Regions from separate parts of the Homo sapiens genome. Here all the other regions are linked to region 2. Evidence: fine-mapped QTL for protein levels in blood plasma. A gene starts in region 2. Each other region holds a variant in brackets. All regions are shown on one strand. Distances are from middle to middle.

Region 1 (5,408 bases), 35 kb after region 2:
TGACATCTCCATTTTCCAGATAAGGGGATGGAGGCTCAGTGAAGTAATTTCTGCAAGCTCATTCCAGAAGAAAGCAGCAGTGCCTTCCTTCAGGTCCAGGTCTAATCAATTCCAAAGTCTGTGTTCTTTTACAGCGCCAAACCTCAGGGCTGGACACATTGCAGGTCTGTCATTGAGACAGAAAGACAATGTGTACATTTTGAGCCAGTCATTCATGCATTTGTTTTATTTAATTTTCTAAAAAGAGCTAAAAGAAAGAATCAGTCATAGTCTTAAGTTTTTTTTTCTTTTTCTTTTTTCTTTTTTTTTTTTTTTTTGAGACAGAATCTCTCTCTCTTGCTCAGGCTGGAGTGCAGTGGTGCAGTCTCAGCTCACTGCAATCCCTACCTCCCAGGTTGAGGCCATTCTCCTGCCTCAGCCTTCCGAGTAGTTGGGATTACAGGTGCGCACCATCAAGCCTGGCTAATTTTTGTATTTTTAGTAGAGACAGGGTTTCACCATGTTGCCCAGGCTAGTCTCAAACTCCTGGCCTCAAGTGGTCTGCCCGCCTCGGCCTCCCAAAGTGCCGGGATTACAGGCACGAGCCACTGCACCCAGCCAGTTTTACAGTGTTTTGGAAGACTACTATGAGCATGCCCAGAACCCCCTCCCAAAAGGAAACCCCAGTAGGGGCGAAGGAACCAAACGGAACTTGTGTATTTCATTTCCTAAGGAGATTCTGGGTGGGAGCAGAGTACTCTTCTCTATGATCCTATGGAAAAACAGTTCTTTACCTCTTCAAAATGACAGGATATTATTGACCTGGGACCATCTTTCGTAGCAAAACATTACCTTTACTGCCCTGTATTGGAGGGCCATTCTTAGTAAGTCTGTCATTCCCTGGGCTTATTTCTCACTGGAGGCATCAGTGTGGTGTAGTAGGAAAAGGCACTGAGACCATTGGACCTGGGTTCAAATGACAGCTGTGCCATTCCCAAGCCCTGTACCCATAGAAAATCCCTGACCCTTTCTGAGCCTTAGTCTCCTGATTTGTTTCACCAGGGGGTTTGTGAAGATTAAATGACAATGTAACACAGCTCCTCGGGCAGGTGACTGACCTGTGGCGTTCATTCTTCTTCCTTAAGAAATGCATAGTCCAGGCCGGGTGCAGTGGCTCACGCCTGTAATCCCAGCACTTTGGGAGGCCGAGGCGGGTGGATCACCTGAGGTCGGGAGTTCGAGACCAGCCTGACCAACATGCAGAAACCCCATCTCTACTAAAAATACAAAAAATTAGCCGCATGTAGTGGCGCATGCCTGTAATCCCAGCTGCTTGGGAGGTTGAAGCAGGAGAATTGCTTGAACCTGGGAGGCAGAGGTTGCGGTGAGCCATGATTGTGCCATTGCACTCCAGCCTGGGCAACAAGAATGAAACTCTGTCTCAAAAAAAAAAAAAAAAAGAAGAAGAAGAAGAAGAAGAAATGCACAGTCCAGGCCGGGCACAACAGTGGCTCATGCCTATAATCTCAGCACTCTGGGAGGCCAAGGTGGTTGGATCACTTGAGGCCAGGCATTCGAGACCAGCCTGGCCAACATGTTGAAACCATGTCTCTACTAAAAATACAAAAATTAGCCAGATGTGGTGGCGCATGCCTGTAGTCCCAGCTACTTGGGTGGCTGAGGCAGGAGAATTGCTTGCACCCAGGAGGTGGAGGTTGCAGTGAGCCAAGATTGCGCCACTGCACTCTAGCCTGGGCAACAGCGCAAGACTCTATCCCGAAAAAGAAAAAAAAAAGAAATGTATAGTCTGAAATGCAAAGTCTGGCTGGGTAGGCAAGCTAGTGAGCTGGTGATAAATAAACTATAGCATGGACTCTAAATGCAGTCATTAATTTAGGTCTTTAGCAGGAGGGAGAGGACTTTACCTGGGTCTTCCAAAATGAGGAAGGGGAGAGATTTTGGTAAGTAGAGCAGAATGAGGGCATTTCAGAAAAGGAAAAACATTTGTCTACCTGCTGTAAGGGGACATGAAATGGTAGATGCCTGGGACAATATGGTCACCTGCCCAAGGAGCAGGGGAGTAATAAACCAGCATGAGATACCATCATCTGAAGCAATTTGTGGCAGCATCTCTGCGGTTACCACACCATCACCTCATTACTTCACCAAGCTGTAATTTTCCATATTACTAATGGGGTTGCAAAGAATCTAGTGTTTCCTATTCAGTGAGGGCTGAAGTTGGGAAAAATAAGAAATCTTCTTGATTATTTTTCCCCTTTGGAAATTAGGGGACAAAACATGGATGATGTCATGGTTTTGGTGGATTCAGAAGAGGAAGAGGAGGAGGAGGAGGAGGAGGAGGAAGATGCTGCAGTAGGGGAACAGGAGGGAGCACGTGAGAGAGAGGAGTTGCCAAAAGAAATACCTAAGCAGGACCACATTCACAGAGTGACCGCCTTGGTGAATGGGAACATAGAACAGATGGGAAATGGATTCCAGGATCT[T/A]CAAGGTAAGCTCTTTTTCCTTAAACAAACAAACAGAAAACAAACAAAAAAAGGCGCGTTGGCTCACGCCTATAATCCCAGCACTTTGGGAGGCCAAGGTGGGAAGATCACTTAAGCCCAGAAGTTCAAGACTAGCCTGGGCAACATGGTGAGACTCTGTCTCTACGAAAAAAAAAAAAAAAAAAAAGAAAAATTAGCCGGTCATGGTGGTGTGCACCTGTGTTCCCAGCTACTTGGGAGGCTGAGGATCACTTGAGTGTAGGAAGTCCAGGCTGCAGTGAGCTATGATCACACCACTGCACTCCAGTCTGGGCAGCAGTAGGAAACCTGCCTCAGAAAAAAAAAAAAAAAAAAAAAAGCCCACAAACCTCTGAACTGCTGCGGTGAGCTTCCCAGCAGGAAATCTCTAAGGGGTGAGTTTAGTTTTTTTAAAAGGCTGGGGAAGATAGCTAAACTTTAGTCTAGAACCTGAGACTACTATCAACTACCAACATGAAAATCAAATTGACAAACACTTATCAAGGTCCTGGTCTAGGGTAGGCACAATATTGGCATTGTGGGAGAACAGAAAATAGAGACTGGTAGTGTCTGCATGCAGGGAGCTTTACAAGACCAGTTCAGGCCAGGTGCGGTGGCTCACGCCTATAATCCCAGCATTTTGGGAGGCTGAGGCAGGTGGATCATTTGAGGTCAGGAGTTTGAGACCAGCCTGGCCAACATGGTGAGACCCCCATCTCTACTAAAAATACAAAAATCAGCTGGGTGTGGTAGGTGCCTGTAATCCCAGCTACTTGGGAGACCAAGGCAGGAGAATCACTTGAACCCGGGAGACGGAGGCTGCAGTGAGCCGAGATCGTGCCACTGCACTTCAGCCTGGGTGACAGAGTGAGACTCTGTCTCAAAAAAAAAAAAAAAAAGGCCAGTTTAGGGGAACAAACTAAAACCTGCAGGGGAAATGGAAACAGGAGCAAGATTGAACCAACACACTGAGAGAGCAGTAGAGGAGCTGTTGCAGGAAGATATTTGATTAATTGCCTGATGGACAACACATTTAAAAATTATAGGCACGGTTGCTCATGCCTGTAATCCCAGCACTTTGGGAGGCCAAAGTGGGTGGATCGCTGGAGCTCAGGAGTTCGAGACTAGCCTTGGGAACATGGCAAAACGTGTCTCTACTAAGAATACAAAAAATTAGCTGGGTGTGTGGCATGTACCTGTAGCCCCAGCTACTTGGGAGGCTGAGGTGGGAGAATCACCTGAGCCTGGGAAGTTGAGGCTGCAGTGAGATGAGATCGTGCCACTGCACCAAAATTTATAGGACCTCAGAGAAAGATAAGAGCCCGGAGAGGTGTGCTGGTCAGGGGAAGCTTTATGGAAGAGGTAGACATGAAGCAAGGCGTTAAGACGGCTGAGTTGGAATAAGCAGAAAGGAGAGAGGGCGTTTCAGGTGAGGGGAGGGGCGTGAGCTGAGGACATGAAGGGTGACTGGTATCAAGCATGCCTAGAGGTTCTGAATGTAGAAAACAGGTGAAAAGGGGAAAACACACGCTGCCCTACCTTCTCCATGAGATCCCATTCTGTGGCTCACCAGGAAAGGACTAGAAATCACTGAGATGATTGATGACTGACGGTGGAAATAGAATCACACTCTGATTACAAAGCATTGGGTTTATTTCCCCCCATACAGATGACAGCAGTGAGGAGCAAAGTGACATTGTTCAAGAAGAAGACAGGCCAGTCTGAAGAAGAGGATGGTCCATGGTTGTCTTGCTCTGAAAGCTTGGAGAGCTACATTGAAGACGAGCTCTTCATTCAGCTTTGACTCCACCTGCACCCCTGGCGGGGGCTTGCACTAACAATGTTTGGGTCTCAGCAAAAAACAAAACCAAGCACACACATCTTTCCTTCCATGTATTGAAAAACATTGGTTTGATTTGCTCTAAGTTTTCCCAATGATGTTTAAAAGCTTTGAGAAGGAAAGCTGCTTTGGTGTCTGAGGTGCCACTTCTGCTGTGAATCCTGGCTTTATCCAGGTTGATCTACTGTGATAGATGCTGATTTAGAGGGAACAGAGGTCAGGGAAGCACTGGGTCTTGGTGCCTTTTGCCGCTTTTTTTTTTTTTTTTTTTTTTTTTTGAGACGGAGTCTCCCTCTATTGCCCAGGCTGGAGTGCAATGGCACGATCTTGGCTCACCACAACTTCTGCCTCCCAGGTTCAAGCGATTCTCCTGCCTCAGCCACGGCACCTTGCAAATATCAGCTCCTTGGAACAGGTGAAGTTCCAGGTACCAATGCCAATCAGAGGAAGGCAGTTTGGTTCAGGCTTTGGAGTTAGAAACACCTGAAGTTGAATCTGGGCTCTGTTGCTTCCTTCTTTCATGGGCTAGAGCACGACTCTTTACCTCTCTCTTGGCCTCAATTTCCTCACCTGTAAAATAGATGAGGAAGCTGCTCACTTATTATTGTCTCGTTCTGAAAGCTTGGAAAGCTACATCGAAGATGAGCTCTTCATTCAGCTTTGATTTGACCTGTACCCCTGGTGGGGGATTGCACTGGCAACATTTGGGTCTCAGCAAAAAAACCAAGCACACACATCTTTCCTTCCATTTATTGAAAAACATCTTTGTAAGATCCATTCATTGAAAAACATAATCCATTTATTGAAAAATATCTTTGTAAGATCACCTGCTAAATATGAAAATCTGACTTGAATTTGTACTCTTTAAAGTTGCGTATCTGCTCTAGTGGGCAGGACCTAGGGCTTAAAGGGGAACTTCCTTTCTCCATTTCTAAGAACTGGGACTCTAAAATGAGAAGCTGGTTGTCTGAAGTAACCCTGCAGGTGTGGTTGGGGAAGGTCTGTTTTCTTGGATGAAGGAACTAAACTAAGCATATCAGAGCACTGTCTTAACCAGTTTTATTTCC
Region 2 (8,053 bases):
TCAGCCTTTCAAGTAGCTGGGATTACGAGCATGCGCCACCATGCCCAGCTAATTTTTTATTTTTAGTAGAGATGGGGTTTCACTGTGTTGGCTAGGCTGGTCTCGAACTCCTGACCTCAAGGGATCTGCCCACCTTGGCTTTCCTGAGTGCTGGGATTATAGGCATGAGCCACCTTGCCTGGCCCAGTTACTGATTTTATTTACCGCTTGTTTATTGCAGGTGAGGATGTAAGGTGTTTGCCAGAAAAGCTGAGGAACTACAATATCAAAACTAATCAATTCTCATTTGTTTACTCAACAAATGTATATTAGAATGGCAACTAGCTGGCAGGTACTGAGGATACAGGAAACAGGTCTGGTTAGTATAGGATCTCCACAAGGTCAAACATGAAAAGCAAGAACCAAGTTGGGTGCAGTGGCTCATGCCTGTAATTCCAGCACTCTGGGAGGATTGACTTAAGCCTAGGAGGTTGAGGCTGCAGTGAGGTATGATTACACCACTGCACTTCAGCCTGGATGATATAGGGAGACTCTGTCTAAAAAAAAAAAAAAAAAAAAATTCCAGGCCGGGTGTGGTGGCTCACGCGTGTAATCCCAGCACTTTGGGAAGCCGAGGCAGGTGGATCACGAGGTCAGGAGATCGAGACCATCCTGGCTAACTGAAGGGGTGGGTTGCCCCTCCACACCTGTGGGTGTTTCTCGTAAGGTGGAACGAGAGACTTGGAAAAGAAAAAGACACAGAGACAAAGTATAGAGAAAGAAATAAGGGGACCCGGGGAACCAGCGTTCAGCATATGGAGGATCCCGCCAGCCTCTGAGTTCCCTTAGTATTTATTGATCATTCGTGGGTGTTTCTCCGAGAGGGGGATGTGTCAGGGTCACAAGACAATTGTGGGGAGAGGGTCAGCAGACAAACACGTGAACAAAGGTCTATGCATCATAGACAAGGTAAAGGATTAAGTGCTGTGCTTTTAGATATGCATACACATAAACATCTCAATGCTTTACAAAGCAGTATTGCTGCCCGCAGGTCCCACCTCCAGCCCTAAGGCGGTTTTTCCCTATCTCAGTAGATGGAACGTACAATCGGGTTTTATACCGAGACATTCCATTGCCCAGGGAGGGGCAGGAGACAGATGCCTTCCTCTTGTCTCAACTGCAAGAGGCATGCCTTCCTCTTATATTAATCCTCCTCAGCACAGACCCTTTACGGGTGTCGGGCTGGGGGCAGTCAGGTCTTTCCCTTCCCACAAGGCCATATTTCAGACTATCACATGGGGAGAAACCTTGGACAATACCTGGCTTTCCTAGGCAGAGGTCCCTGCGGCCTTCCGCAGTGTTTGTGTCCCTGGGTACTTGAGATTAGGGAGTGGTGATGACTCTTAAGGAGCATGCTGCCTTCAAGCATCTGTTTAACAAAGCACATCTTGCACCGCCCTTAATCCATTTAACCCTGAGTTTGACACAGCACATGTTTCAGAGAGCACGGGGTTGGGGGTAAGGTCACAGAATCTCAAGGCAGAAGAATTTTTCTTAGTACATAACAAAATGGAGTCTCCCATGTCTACTTCTTTCTACACAGACACAGTAACAATCTGATCTCTCTTGCTTTTCCCCACACTAACACGGTGAAACCCCGTCTCCACTAAAAATACAAAAATTATCCGGGCGTGGTGGCAGGAGCCTGTAGTCCCAGCTACTTGGGAGGCTGAGGCAGGAGAATGGCATGAGCCTGGGAGGCGGAGCTTGCAGCGACAGAGCGAGACTCCGTCTCAAAAAACAAACAAACAAAATTCCTGTCAAGAATCTGATGAACAGTTATTTTATTTTATTTTTTATTTATTTATTTTTTTTGAGACGAAGTCTCGCTCTTCTCCCCAGGCTGGAGTGCAATGGCGCGATCTCGGCTCACTGCAACCTCCACCTCCTGGGTTCAAGCGATTCTCCTGCCTCAGCCTCCCAAGTAGCTGGGATTACAGGCGCCTGCCACCACACCGGGCTAATTTTTGTATTTTTAGTAGAGACGAAGTTTCACCATGTTGGCCAGGCTACTCTCGAACTCCTTACCTCAGGTGATCCACCTGCCTCGGCCTCCCAAAGTGCTGGGATTACAGGCATGAGCCAACGTGCCCGGCTGATGAACAGTTATTTAAAAATATTTGAGCAAAGAATAAAAAAGGGCTGAGCGCGGTGGCTCGCACCTGTAATCCCAACACTTTGGCAGGCCAAGGCGGGTGGATCACTTGAGGTCAGGAGTTCGAGACCAGCCTGGGTAACATGGAGAAACGCTGTCTTTACTAAAATTACAAAAATTAGCTGGGCGTGGTGCTGCACACCTGTAGTCCCAGCTACTCGGGAGGCTGAGGTGGGAGGATCACTTGAGCCTGGTAGTTTGAGGCTGCAGCGAGGTATGATTGTGCTACTGCACTCTAGCCTGGGCAACTGGAGTGACACCCTGTCTCAAAAAAATAAAAAACAGAAAAGTAAAAAAGGCAGAACTGTTCAGCTTCATTGCTCAGTTCACCAGGAGAAACATTTTTTTTTTAAAGTGGTTTCAAGAGGATTTCCTCATGGAAGAAGCATTTCAATAAGGGGACCGTTGAACAACAGAACTAATGATTTTTTTTTAACGTTAATATTTATTTTGAGATGGAGTCTCGCTCAGTCGCCCAGGCTGGAGTGCAATGGCGTGATATCGGCTCACTGCAACCTCCGCCTGCTGGGTTCAAGCGATTCTCCTGCCTCAGCCTACCCAGTAGCTGGGATTACAGGCGCCCGCCATCATGCCCGGCTAATTGTTGTATTTTTAGTAGAGACAGGGTTTCACCATGTTGGTCAGGCTGGTCTCGAACTCCTGACCTTGTGATCCGCCCACCTCGGCCTCCCAAAGTGCTGGGATTACAGGTGTGAGCCACCACGCCCTGCCATATTATTATTATTTGAAACAGGAAGTTTCTCCTAGGGCTGTTTTATGGATGGCTCTTCCTGAGGATATCAAAGCCGCATTTTCCCCAGGACAGAATGGGATGAGGGCATGGCAGGGAAGAGAGGAGCTTAGCCTGGGAATCTGACTGGGTAAGGGGTGGGAGAACTAAAAGGGGAAAAGCAAAAACAAAACTCTTGAGAAACACGTCCTGGGGACTCCTTGGCTCTCGCTGTCACTGTGTGGTCCCAGCCAGTTCACTGGAGAACCGGAGTCTCGTGGCTGCTTTGGCTGAAAGTCAGGGGATCATCTTTCTCTGGCTCCCTTTTGCAGAGGGTAAGGAAAGGAAGCGATGGCGGCCTTGGCGCCCGCCCTGCGCCCAGGGACACAGACCGGAATCCCTCGAGACGCTCAGCGGGGACTGCCAGGGGGGTCCTGCGTTCTGCAGCTTGGCAACCGCTTCCTCCGGGTTCTGCAGCCCGGGGCAGCGGCGGGGGTTGCGTCCTGCGGCAGCTGCAGGGCTCCGTCCCGCCCGCTGTCCCCGCGACTCGGTACTGCTGTCCCGGGCGGAGTGGACTGGGGAGGGCCCAGCCTCCGCGCCCCGCCCCTGGCCCGGCGGGACCCGGCTCGGCGCGCCCTCGGCAGAAAGCCCTCCTCCCGGGCCAAGGTAGAGGAAGTTGGGCTCCCGCCTGGCTGGGAGGCGGGAGGGATCCCGCTCCTGTTGTTTTCCGCCGGCAGGAGTAGGCTGGCGGGCGCAGGGGGCGGGGTGCGCCCTCCCTCCCCGGCCAGGGCGCTCGGGAGCGGGGACCCGAGCCTGCAGCCGAGCTCCGCTGCCGGCCCTGGACACTCGGCTCAGCCAAGCATCCTTCCTGGGGGCCGAGGAAGTGGGGCCACTCTGCCGTTCCGAGGACCTGGGAGGAGCCCTCGGTACCCCGGGCCCCGGGGCCCTGGGGCACACACGTCCAGCCCAGCCCGAGCCTGCGTTTCCTGAGCCGGGATCTGGGGCGAGATGGCCGCAGGCGGCAGTGCGCCCGAGCCCCGCGTCCTCGTCTGCCTCGGGGCGCTCCTGGCCGGCTGGGTCGCCGTAGGTAAGGGGCCGCGATCTGGAGGGAAAAGTTGAGTTTTCCCAGTCAGCGGTGGGGAGGGGACAGCGAGAGACCCAATTCCCTCCGACTCCGCCCGGATCCGTGGTGGCCCCAGCCTAGAAGCTGCCCCAGGAGGGTCTTGGTTTCCTGCTCGCAGCTCGGCCGTCTTTGCAGGAAGGAGTTTTCCCGGGCGCCCGGTGCGGGGCGAGATACCCCCAGCCTCCTGGGGTGGGCAGCCGGTGAGGCTGCAGAGGAGCCGAGCCGAGCCGACGTGCGGGGGCAAAGTAAAGAGGCACGTGTGCCGGGAAAGTGATTTTTTTTTTTAAGCGTCGGATGTAAATTCGCGTTCTGGTTTTAGTAGTAACTGATACGCTGGTGCTCAAACTCGAGACTCCCACTTTATTTTTCTCCTCCCTCTGCCCAAGGTTGAACTCGCCTTACACCTGTAACCGGTGGACTTCCCTACACACCTTTGCAAGTCTTCCTGTGCCGACCAGCGCCTTCAAAGCGGGGTCTTCCGCCTTTACTTTTGGAAAAGCTTTTTATTTTGAAATACTTGGCTGACTTACAAAAGACTTCCCCTCACACTTGACATGATTGACAAAAGGTCTGAAATGCTTCATCTATGGTCTGCTTTGCTACGAAAAAAGAATTGGAGGGGTGCTTACAAAAATATGTAGAATGTAAAAAGATTGAACTATTTATATATATTTGAATTTAATTCACCAGCATGCCTACTGTGCATGCCTACTGTGTGCTGGGAGTGTGACAAGCTGGGAGGAGGCTGGGGTGCAGGGAGAGGAGATGGAGCCAGGAGGTGGTGAAGTTTGCCAGGATGCAGGCAGAGCGCTACTTTTTGTGTTCCCGGGTCTGCTCCACCCAACGGGTCTCCTCTTGCACGTTTCTGGAGATGGGTTGTAAAGTATGCTGGAGCTTCTTAGCAGCAAGTGCCAAGAGTTCCTAATTATTAGGCTCATACAATTTTATTTTGCTTTTTTTTTTTTAACCAACCATTTAAAAACAATAACATCTCTAGATTTCCAGTTTATCTGGAAAAATCTGAAGGTCTGGCAACACGGGGCCTGCTTTCCCAGTTGGAATTGGGCAGTGGTCATCCTCTTATCTAGGGCATATGAGCCCAAATTTGTTCCACCTCTCCCTGTTGTAATATTTGCCCCGCCACCTTCAGTCATGGGTGTTACCTGCTGGCCCTGCAGGCATTTGGCTGAGTAATCACTGTGCTGGGGTGTGGGTGATGGGGGAGGACAGTTCCTAGTTGGTCATCTCTGGACGTGAAAGGTGGTTGTCAAGTATTCCCATCTCCCCAGCTGTTTGCAGTGTTTCCTGCACGATGAACACCAGGAACCTGGGAAGTGAGAAGAACCCTGGGATGAAGTCATCCTGCTGGAATGACCTGGCTTTCAGGCTGACTGCCACCCGCCCCATGGGGAACCTATCTCCACTGCTATGGCCAGCTATTTTTTTCGAGCCAGGCTCTCGCTCTGTTGCCCAGGCTGGAGTGCAGTGGTGCAATCACTGCACTGATCCTCCCACCTCAGCCTACAAGTAGCTGGGACTACAGGCGTGCACCACCACGCCTAGCTAATTTCTAAAATTTTTTTGTAGAGACGGTCTCTACAATCGCTTGAGCCCAGGCTGGTCTTAAACTCCTGGACCCAAGCGATCCTCCTGTCTCGGCCTCCCAAAGTGTTGGGATTATGGGTGTGAGCCACCGTGTTGGGCCTTTGCCCAGCTATTTTGATGCCCAGACCTGCTTCACCTTTGTGTATGATGCCAGGGGGCTTCCTGAGCTTGGTGTATTTTTGTTGTGTGTTTGTTTTTTAAGTTGGGAGTTTTTGGGGAAAAAAATTTTTCTCCTGACATTCAATGCCAGACAACTTATATGCATCCACTAGCTACCCCGGATTGTAAATCCTAGGTTATTCTTGGGAAAAGTTGCTTTAAAAAAATAAATAAATGTTTGGGTATAACTCCTACTCTGTAAATAATAATACATGGGCAGCATCAGGGAGTTTATATTACTCCCTCTTCGGTTCTCTATTGTACATTTAAGGTTGGGGGGCAAGAAGGACCCTCTGGACACCATATGAATGACTTCTAAACTTGTTACTATATTTTATCATTGCATCCTGTCTGGTGCAGGAGACCAGAGTAACGTGACCTGAGTGACAATCCCACATCTCCCAGTGATTTGCTTGGGACTTTAAGTGATAACTTAATCTTCCTAAATCTCAATTTTCTCAGTAGTAAAGTGAGGAGGTTTAGGACTGCCAGGCAAGAACTACCCCTTCCATGTCTATGTCAGACATCACTAAATCGATGACTGTGTTCTTTTCCACTGAACCAGGACTCAATCTCATCTTCAACCCAGCCCACAGGGCAGCCACATCTCTGGACTAGATGATCTCCAAGGGCACCTTCAGATACAGTGGTTTAAAAAAGAACGGAGTAAGCCAAACCAGGAGAAGTGAAATGTCTTCAAATGGTTTCTTTTGTGATCATGTCATTCTATGCCTTGGAGGAGAAAACAATGTTAGCTCAAGTTCCAAGACTAAAGTTTCACCACGGCTTTTTTCCAAGCCACTGTTCCTTTATTTCTTTGCCAAGGAGTTAGGCAAGGGGCAGGTCTGCAGGTTGCATGAACACATGTTGCATCTGTAACTCTGAAGTTCATCTTCCTTTCCATTGTGGCGGTTGCCACTGGATAATTTGGGTTCCCAATCCTAATAATTTAAAAATAATTCTTGGCTGGGTGCGGTGGCTCCCGCCTGTAATCCCAGCACTTTTGGAGGCCGAAGTGGGCAGATCACCTGAGGTCAGGAGTTCAAGACCAGCCTGGCCAACACAGTGAAACCCTGTCTCTACAAAAATACAAAAACTTAGCGGGGCATGATGGCGGGTGCCTGTAATCCCAGCTACTCAGAAGACTGAGGCGGGAGAATTGCTTGAACCCAAAGGCAGAGGTTGCAGTGAGCCGAAATTACGCCTTGCACTCCAGCCTAGGCAACAGAGCGAGACTTCATCTCAAAAAAAAAGTAAATAAATAAATAAAAAGAATTCTTATCTGCTTTTTTTTTTGAGACAGAGTCTTGCTCTGTTACCCAGGCTGGAATGCAATGGTGCGATCTTGGCTCACTGCAACCTCCGCCTCCCAGGTACAAGGGATTCTCCTGCCTCAGCCTCCCGAGTAGGTGGGATTACAGGTGTGCGCCACCACGCCCGGCTAACTTTTTGTATTTTTAGTAGAAACGGGGTTTCACCGTGTTAGCCAGGCTGGTCCCGAGCTCTTGATCTTGCCCACCTTGGCCTCCCAAAGTGCTGGGGTTACAGGCAGGAGCCACCACGCCCGGCCATTCAGCTAATTTTTAGTAGAGATGAGGTTTCACCATGTTGGCCAGGCTGGTCTCCAACTCCTGACCTCAAGTGATCCACCTGCCTCGGCCTCCCAAAATGCTGGGATTACAGGCGTGAGCCACCGCCCCCGGCCCTCACCTGCTTTTTAAAGTGATTGCTCAGAAGCATTTCTTGCTGTTTTGGAATCTCTGTCATTAGATGGCATTCTCCACCTTTCAGCAAGTGGCTTAGTTTTTAAAATTTGGTGTTTTGTTTGTTTGTTCGTTTGTTTTCATCCTGACTTGGCTGAAAAGTCTTGGGAATGGTGTGGCCAAAATGGTGAGAGAATCAGAACTTCCTGGGGCTCCAGGCTGGCTTCAGATCTTTAAAAGGGAGCCCCTTCTAACCAGACAAGAGGCCAAATACAGATAATGATTACTCTTTCACTTAAATGGGAAGGATTGCCAGGGGCAAGTGGCAGTTTATTTTTTCTATAACAGCTTTATTCAGATATAATTTACATGCCACAAAATTCACCCTTTTTAAGTGTACCACCCAGGGGATTTTAGTGTAGTCCAGGGTTATACAGCCATCACCACTAATTCATCATTTTTATCACCCCAACAGGTTCTGCCCATCTTCCTATTCCTGCAGCCTCTTTGTATTGGGTCTTGATTGTGGAGGGGGCTGG
Region 3 (8,053 bases), 28 kb after region 2:
AGAAGCATTTGAGAGTTCTTCTGAGGAAGAAATCCCCGGATGTCAGGGTGGACTGAATTCCTTCCCTTTCTCCCTTTCTTTTTCTTTATGTTTCACTTTTTTCAAATTTTAGAGATGCTTAGCTCAAGCTTCTTCATTCTAGTCCCAGCTATTTTCCACTTGACAGATACTAATTGAACCCCTGCTATGTGCCAGGTACAGTTTCTACGTGCTGAGGATGGAGCAGTGAACAAGACATATGAGGTTCATCGTCTTTTGTGTCTGTCCATTTACTGTTGCTGTAAAGGAATACCTGAGGCTGGGTAGTTTATAAAGAAAATTTTTTTTTTTTTTTTTTTTTTTTTTTTTTTAGGCAGAGTCTTGCTCTGTTGCCCAGACTGGAGTGCAGTGGCATGATCTTGGCTCACTACAGCCTCTGCCTCCCAGGTTCAAGCAATTCTCCTGCCTTAGCCTCTTGAGTAGCTGGGACTACAGGCGTGCACCATCATGCCCAGCTAATTTTTGTATTTTTAGTAGAAATGGGGTTTCACCATGTTGGCCAGGCTGGTCTCGAACTGACCCCAAGTGATCTACCTGCCTCGGCCTCCTAAAGTGCTGGGATTATAGGTGTGAGCCACCGCACCTAGCTGAAAATTACTTTATTTGCTCATAGTTCCGTAGGCTGTGCAAGAAACATGGCACCAGCATCTGCTTGGCTTCTGGTGAGAGCGTCAGGCTGCTTCTGCTCATGACAGAAGGTAAAGGGGAGCCAGCTTATGCAGAGTTCCATAGTGAGAGAGGAAGCAAGAGAGAGAAGGGAGGTGCCAAACTCTTTTTAACAACCAGCAGTGGCTGGGCGTGGTAGCTCACACCTGTAATCTCAGCACTTTGGGAGGCTGAGGCAGGTGGATCACTTGAGGTCAGGAGTCTGAGACCAGCCTGGCCAACATGATGAAACCCCATCTCTACTAAAAATACAAAAATTAGTTGGGCGTGGTGGCGCATGCCTGTAGTCCCAGCTACTCGGGAGGCTGAGGCAGGAGAACTGCGTGAACCCAGGAGGCGGAGCTTCCAGTGAGCCGAGATCGCACCACTGCACTCCAGCCTGGGCGATGGAGTGAGACTCCATCTCAAAAAAAGAAAATAGTGACAAAAATTGTAATTACTTTTGCAGTAAGCTAATAGAATGAGAATTCACTTACCCAAACACCTTCCATTAGGCCTTACCTCCAACACTGAGGATCAAATTTAAACATGAGATTTGGAGGGGACAAACATTCAAACTATAGCTTCTAGTTATGTAACAAATTACTCTCAAACATAGTGGCTTAAAACAAGAATAACCATTTATTATCTGATGATTTCTGTGGGTCAGGAATTCAGAGAGGGCACAGTGGGCATTGGGGATGGTTTGTCTTGGCTCTGTATGTCTGGGGTGTCAGCCGGAAGAATTGAAGGTTGCGGGGCTGAAATCATCTGAAAGATCTACTTTTGAAGTCCTCACTCCCATGCCTGGCAACTATTTCTTCTCCATGTGGGATTCTCCATAAGGCTGCTTGAGTGTCCTTCCAACATGGCAGATGGCTTCCCTCAGAGCAAATGATCCAAAATGGAGTGAGTCAAGCTGATGCTATCCTTTCTATGACCTAGCCTCAGGAGTTACATGGGATCCCTTCTGCCACACTCTGTGTCTTAGAAATAAGTCCAGCCCACATTGAAGAGGGCTGGGAAGAATTAGGCACCACTTTTTGAAGGGAGGAGTGTCAGAGAATGTCTGTACATATTAAAACCACAAACATTCCTCTTTCACAGAGCTTATATTCTGGGTGGCATGGGGGTAGAAGGAAGACAGAAAGTACAAAAACAAGTAAGATAGGTCCAGATATGATGATAATATGAGGATAATAAAATGGTATATATAAAAGGGAGGCCTTTATAAGAAGAGGGGCACTTTTCCTAGGGTGGCAGGGAGGTCTCCGTGAGATGGTAATAATCTATCCTTAGAATGAGAAGGAGCTGGCTAGGTGAAGATCCGTGGGCTGAGTGTTCCTGGCAGAGGCAACAGCAAACGCAGAGGCCCTGAGGTGGAAACAAACTTGGCATTTGAGGACCCGAGAGAAGACCAGTGTGGCCGGGGCATCGTGTGTAAAGTACTGATAAAGCTGGGTGGAGGTTGGGGGTTCAGTTGTGTCCCCCCAGTAGATATGTTCAAGTCCAAACCCTAATACCTGTGGATATGACTTTATTCAGAAAGAGTCTTTGCAGATGGAATCAAGTTAAGATAAGGTCATAGTGGATTAGAGTAGGCTGTAATCCAATGACTGATGTCTTTCTTTGTAAGAAGGGAGAAGGCCGGGCGTGGTGGCTCACGCCTGTAATCCCAGCACTTTGGGAGTCAGAGGCAGGAGGATAGCTTACGGCTAGGAATTCGAGACCAGCCTGGGCAACACAGACCTTGTTTCTACAAACAATAAAAAATAAATAAAGTAGCTGGGCATGGTGGTATGCACCTATAATCCCAGCTACTGGGGAGGCTGATGTGAGAGTATTGCTTGTACCTAGGAGGTTGAGGCTGCAGTGAGCGGTCACTCCAGGCCTGGGTGTCAGAGTGAAACTCTGTCTCAAAACAAAAAAAAGGGAAAGGTAAGAGAGATCAGAAGCGCCAGGATCAGTCAGATGTGGTAGCTCATGACTGTAATCCCAGCACTTTGGGAGGCCAAGGACGGGCATATTGCTTGGGCCCAGGAGTTTGAGACCAGCCTGGGCAACACAGCGAAACACCATGATATGGTTTGGCTCTGTGTCCCCACCCAAATCTCATGTTGAATTGTAACTCCAAATATTGGCAGAGGGACCTGGTGGGAGGTAATTTGATCATGGGAATGTATTTCACACAAACACTAACACTAACGATAGGTGATGAGCCAAAAAAAAAAAAAAGGGACCGTGCATAATTTTCATGATATCCATCACACAGATAAACAAAAATGTCCTCACATTCAAAGCCATCCTGGGCCGAATTTAGCCCGCAGCTGCAGGTTGGAAAAGCTTGCTCTAGAGCGTCCAAAAGGAACCAGCTCTGCCAACATCTTGATGTTAACCTTGTAAGACGTTCTAGACTCCTGGCCTCCACAACTGTTAAGAGAATAAATGTGCTTTAAGCCACTAAGTTTGTCACAATCTATTACATCAGCAATTGGAAACAAATACAGCTGCCCTCTTGTCCCCTTGAAATCCTTGTCAGATATGTGTCCATTTTTATACGATCAGTACAGTTTTTATGTGTAAAAGTGTATAGCATAGAAGGAAGGCTTATGGATACAGTAGCCAGTTTATCCTGGTTTGCACAGAACTCTCCTGGTTTTAGGACTGAAAACTCCTCATTCTGGGAATACTCCACGTCCTGGGCAGACTGGGGCAGTTGATCACTCTGAATCCTAGCTGCATTGCCTATTTAGTTCTGTAGCATTCAGCAAATTACTTAACTTTCTCTGTGCCTCAGTTTCCTTATCTGCAAAATGGGCATAATAACAGGGTTGCTGTGAGAGTGAATTGGGTTAATACATGTAACAGTGCCTTGCCCACAGTAAATGCCTAGTAATCTTAGGCTTATTATGATGTAAGACGAGGTGTGGTGGAGAAATTTCTGGAGTTGGCCAGGCACGGTGGCTCATGCCTGTAATCCCAGCACTTTGGGAGGCCAAGGTGGAGGATCATTTGAGGTCAGGAGTTCAAGACCAGCCTGACCAACATGGTGAAACCCTGTTTCTACTAAAAGTACAAAAATTAGCCAGGCATGGTGGCAGGCACCTGTAATCCCAGCTACTTGGGAGGCTGAAGCATGAGAATCACTTGAACCTGGGAGGCAGAGGTTGCAGTGAGCCAAGATCACAGCACTGCACTCCAGCCTGGGTGACAGAGCGAGACCTTGTCTCAAAAACAAAAAAAGAAAAAAAGAAATTTCTGGAGTTGCTTCATTAGGAAGGAAATGTAGTGTTCCTGCCTTACCCATGAGGGATATGTTCCTAGATCCCCAGTGGATGCCTGAAGCCATGGGTAGCACTGAACCCTATATATATATATACACACACACACATATATACACACACACACATATATATATACACACATATATACATATATATACATATATATACATATACACATATATACATATATACACATATATATACATATACACATATATACATATATACATATATATACTATGCTTTTTCTTATACATAAATACTTATGATAAGGTTAATTTATACATTAGGCACAATAAGAGATTAACAATAGTAACTAATAAAAAATAGACAAGTATAACAATATACTGTCATAAAAGGTATGCGAATGTGATCTTTCTCTCAAAATATCTACTCAGCCTTCTTGTGATGAAGAAAGGCTCATGCAGATGGTGTGAGATTTCGTCACACGACTCAGAACAATGTGCAGTTTAAAACTTAGGAAATTGTGAATATACTTAAAAGTACTGCAAGAAATGAAAAAATAAAAAATTTATGAATTGGCCCGGCACGGTGGCTCACGCCTGTAATCCTAGCACTTTGGGAGGCTAAGGCAAGTGGATCACCTGAGGTCAGGAGTTTGAGACTAGCCTGGCCAATATGGTGAAACCCCGTCTCTACTAAAAATACAAAAATTAGGTGGGCGTGGTGGCTCATGCCTGTAATCCCAGCCACTTGGGAGGCTGAGGCAGGAAAATCTCTTGAATTCAGGAGGTGGAGATTGCAGTGAGCTGAGATTGCATCACTGCACTCCAGCCTGGGCGACAAAGTGAGACTCCATCTCAAAAAAAAAAAAAAATTGTTCATTTCTGAAATTTTCCATTTAGTATTTTTGGACTGTAGTCAACCATGGTAACTGAAACCTCAGAAAGTGAAATCACAGATAAAGGGGACTGGGGCCGGATGCGGTGGCTCACGCCTGTAATCCCAGCACTTTGGGAGACTGAGATGGGCAAATCACCTGAGGTTGGGAGTTTGAGACCAGCCTGGGCAACATGGTGAAACCCTGTCTCTACTAAAAATACAAAAATTAGCCAGGTGTGGTGGCGCATGCCTGTAATCCCAGCTCGGGAGGCTGAGGCAGGAGAATTGCTTGAACCCGGGAGGGAGGCAGAGGTTGCAGTGAGCTGAGATCGCACCACTGCACTCCAGCCTGGGCAACAGAGCAAAACCTCCATCTCAAAACAAAACAAAACAAAACAAAAAACTACTGCAGTTTTCCTGCAGATCTCAGGCCATGACTTGAATCTCTTTAAACATTTGTCTTTGTTTACCTTCTGATCACCAGGGGGTCCCTCCCTTCTCTCTGAGCCCATGAAGACTTGCTTCACTGGGGGCAATGTGACGCTTACATGCCAGGTGTCTGGGGCCTACCCCCCTGCCAAGATCCTGTGGCTGAGGAACCTTA[CCCAGCCCGAGGTGATCAT/T]CCAGCCTAGCAGCCGCCATCTCATTACCCAGGATGGCCAGAACTCCACCCTCACTATCCACAACTGCTCCCAGGACCTGGATGAGGGCTACTACATCTGCCGAGCTGACAGCCCTGTAGGGGTGAGGGAGATGGAAATCTGGCTGAGTGTGAAAGGTGAGTGGTGGAACTGGGCCTGAAGGAGGGAGGGTTCAGAGCTTCAGAGCACCCAGCATCAGCATGAGGACAGCCTGGTGCCTCCCTACACATGGGTCACTGCCAACTGGGAGAAGGCATATCTGCTTGCTTATGACTTGACAAGGTGGCTGGAAGAAATTATCCAACCCTAAACTCACTAATATTTCCATAGGTAGCAAAAATTACATAATATCTATACACACCAACGAATAGATATCTAGTGTATGTCAGTTGTAAAGCATAACAGCAAAATGAACACCTAAGAAACTATCATCCCACTGAGGATACAGAATAGTACCAACATGCATTAGGTTACTTGTATGTCTCAGGGCCAGATTTGGAAACAACGATAGGGCTGGGCACAGTGGCTCACGCCTGTAATCCCAGCACTTTGGGAGGCCGAGGCGGGTGGATCACTTGAGGCCAGGAGTTTGAGACCAGCCTGGCTAGTATGGTGAAACCTCGTCTTTACTAAAAATACAAAATTACTTGGGAGGCTGAGATGGGCAGATCACCTGAGGTTGGGAGTTCGAGACCATTAGCTGAGCATGGTGGCAGGTGCCTGTAATCCCAGCTACTCGGAAGTCTGAGGCAGAATTGCTTGAATCTGGGAGGCGAAGGTTGCAGTGAGCCGAGATCACACCACTGCACTTCAGCTTGGGTGACAGAGCGAGAATCCACTTCAAAAAGAAGAAAATAGCAATAGAACTTTAAAAACAGGATGCCTGCTTAAATTTGAGTTTAGAAAAATAAATACTTTTAAGTATAAGTGTGTCCCAAATATTTCATGAGACATACTTACACTAAAAAAACTATTCATTGTTTATCTGAAATCCAAATTTCACTGGGCATACTGAATTTTACCTGGGAACCCTCCCTGTAGGCCTAGTCTCATCTTGGGCCTCTCTCGAAAGGTAACCATGGTCCTGAATTTTAAGTTTTACTATATATGTCTCTACTTATTTCTTTTTATTTTATTTTTTATACAGATGAGGTCGCACTGTGTTGACCAGGTTGGTCTTGAACTCCTGGCCTGAAGTGAGCCTCCCATCTCAGCCTCCCAAAGTGTTGAGATTGCAAGCATGAGCCACCACACCTGGCCTCTTTCTTCCCTTCCCTTCTCCCTTTTCCTTTCTCTTCTCCCTTTTCCCTTTCCTACCTTCCTTCTTTTCTTTCCCTCCCCTCCCCTCCTCTTTCTTTCTTTTTTTTTTTTGAGACGGAGTCTTGCTCTGTCACCCAGGCTGGAGTGCAGTGGTGCGATCTCGGCTCACTGCAAGCTCCACCTCCTGGGTTCATGCCATTCTCCTGCCTCAGCCTCCCAAGTAGCTGGGACTGCAGGCGCCCGCCGCTGTGCCCGGCTAATTTTTTGTATTTTTAGTAGAGATGGGGTTTCACTGTGTTAGCCAGGATGGTCTCGACCTCCTGACCTCGTGATCCGCCTGCCTCGGCCTCCCAAAGTGCTGGGATTACAGGCGTGAGCCACCGCGCCCGGCCCTCTTTCTTTCTTTGAGATGGAATTTCGCTCTTGTTGCCCAGGCTGGAGTGCAATGGCGCGATCTTGGCTCACCGCAACCCCCGCCTCCCGGGTTCAAGTGATTCTCCTGCCTCAGCCTCCCAAGTAGCTGGGATTACAGACATGCACCACCACACCTGGCTAATTTTGTATTTTTAGTAGAGACGGGGTTTTAACATGTTGGTCAGGCTGGTCTCGATCTCCCGACTTCAGGTGATCCGCCCTCCTCAGCCTCCCAAAGTGCTGGGATTACAGGCATGCGCCACTGCGCCCGGGCTCTAGTACCAATTCTTAAATAGTGCTTCCTTTGCTCAAGACCCTGTCATATATCAATTATACTTACGTGTGGACCCGTTCCTGGACTCTCTGTTCTGTTCCGTTGATCACTCTGTTTATCATGGCATTGATAACTCTCAACACTCTTACTTACCATGGCCTTAGAAATAGTCTCAGTGTTTGGTAGACAGAGAGATTTTAACTTTCCATTGTTTGTTCACATTCCCTGCTCCATCTGATCCCCACAAACTCTCTGAGGTTGGGTGATAAAATATTTATCTGGCATTACAGACAGGTCATAAGCCTTACCCAAGGTCAGGAATCAAGACAAGAACTGGATCCACGCAGAGAAAGGGAGGTGTTGTTCTAATTGCACACATATCTGATGGAAGAATCAATGGTGTGATTTGTCTTTACAGAACCTTTAAATATCGGGGGGATTGTGGGAACCATTGTGAGCCTCCTTCTGCTGGGACTGGCCATTATCTCAGGGCTTCTGTTGCATTATAGCCCTGTGTTCTGCTGGAAAGGTAAGGACTCCCTGGGTCCTTTAGCTTCTCTTCCAGACTTTTGAAAAGGTGCGGGATGGGGAAGGATGGCCCCTGCCTTGCTCCCACCTGAAGTTCTGTTCTCTGGGCTTCTTTGCTGGGTCAA

Which allele goes with the higher level. Alleles are on the strand shown, and positions count from the first base shown. The strength of an association depends on the size of the effect and on how common the allele is.
For the plasma level of the protein whose gene starts at base 3,593 in region 2, allele A in region 1 goes with a higher level than allele T (moderate association).
In carriers of allele T in region 3, the plasma level of the protein whose gene starts at base 3,593 in region 2 tends to be higher than with CCCAGCCCGAGGTGATCAT alone (strong association).

Evidence for each region. PIP is the chance, under the fine-mapping model, that this variant and not a neighbour inherited with it causes the effect. The UK Biobank Pharma Proteomics Project read protein levels with antibody pairs (Olink). The fine-mapping took linkage between variants from a reference panel, not from the people measured, so its PIPs are less certain.
Region 1: its variant is fine-mapped to the plasma level of the VSIG10 protein (UK Biobank, PIP above 0.99). The variant lies in the coding sequence of VSIG10. If it changes the protein, the assay may bind it differently, which can mimic a change of level.
Region 3: its variant is fine-mapped to the plasma level of the VSIG10 protein (UK Biobank, PIP above 0.99). The variant lies in the coding sequence of VSIG10. If it changes the protein, the assay may bind it differently, which can mimic a change of level.

What each region holds. Positions count from the first base shown.
Region 1 is chr12:118,065,457-118,070,864 of GRCh38, reverse strand. It overlaps VSIG10 (V-set and immunoglobulin domain containing 10), which reads left to right. Exons shown (of 9, transcript NM_019086.6): 8 at 2,268-2,488; 9 at 4,171-5,408. The coding sequence ends at 4,226. All of the region lies in intron 1 of LOC124903030 (a long non-coding RNA gene), which reads right to left. Among named protein-coding and RNA genes, the nearest start is that of WSB2, 7.0 kb to the right of the region's middle. The variant T/A (reference allele first, on the strand shown) is at 2,484.
Region 2 is chr12:118,099,551-118,107,603 of GRCh38, reverse strand. VSIG10 (V-set and immunoglobulin domain containing 10) reads left to right here and starts at 3,593. Exons shown (of 9, transcript NM_019086.6): 1 at 3,593-4,011. The coding sequence starts at 3,933. LOC124903029 (a long non-coding RNA gene) reads left to right here and starts at 4,022. Exons shown (of 2, transcript XR_007063478.1): 1 at 4,022-4,615; 2 at 5,337-5,999. RefSeq lists an enhancer at 1,143-1,858 and a silencer at 3,500-3,749.
Region 3 is chr12:118,071,235-118,079,287 of GRCh38, reverse strand. It overlaps VSIG10 (V-set and immunoglobulin domain containing 10), which reads left to right. Exons shown (of 9, transcript NM_019086.6): 5 at 5,296-5,589; 6 at 7,819-7,929. LOC124903030 (a long non-coding RNA gene) reads right to left here. Exons shown (of 2, transcript XR_007063479.1): 2 at 1,308-3,114. Among named protein-coding and RNA genes, the nearest start is that of WSB2, 14 kb to the right of the region's middle. The variant CCCAGCCCGAGGTGATCAT/T (reference allele first, on the strand shown) is at 5,416.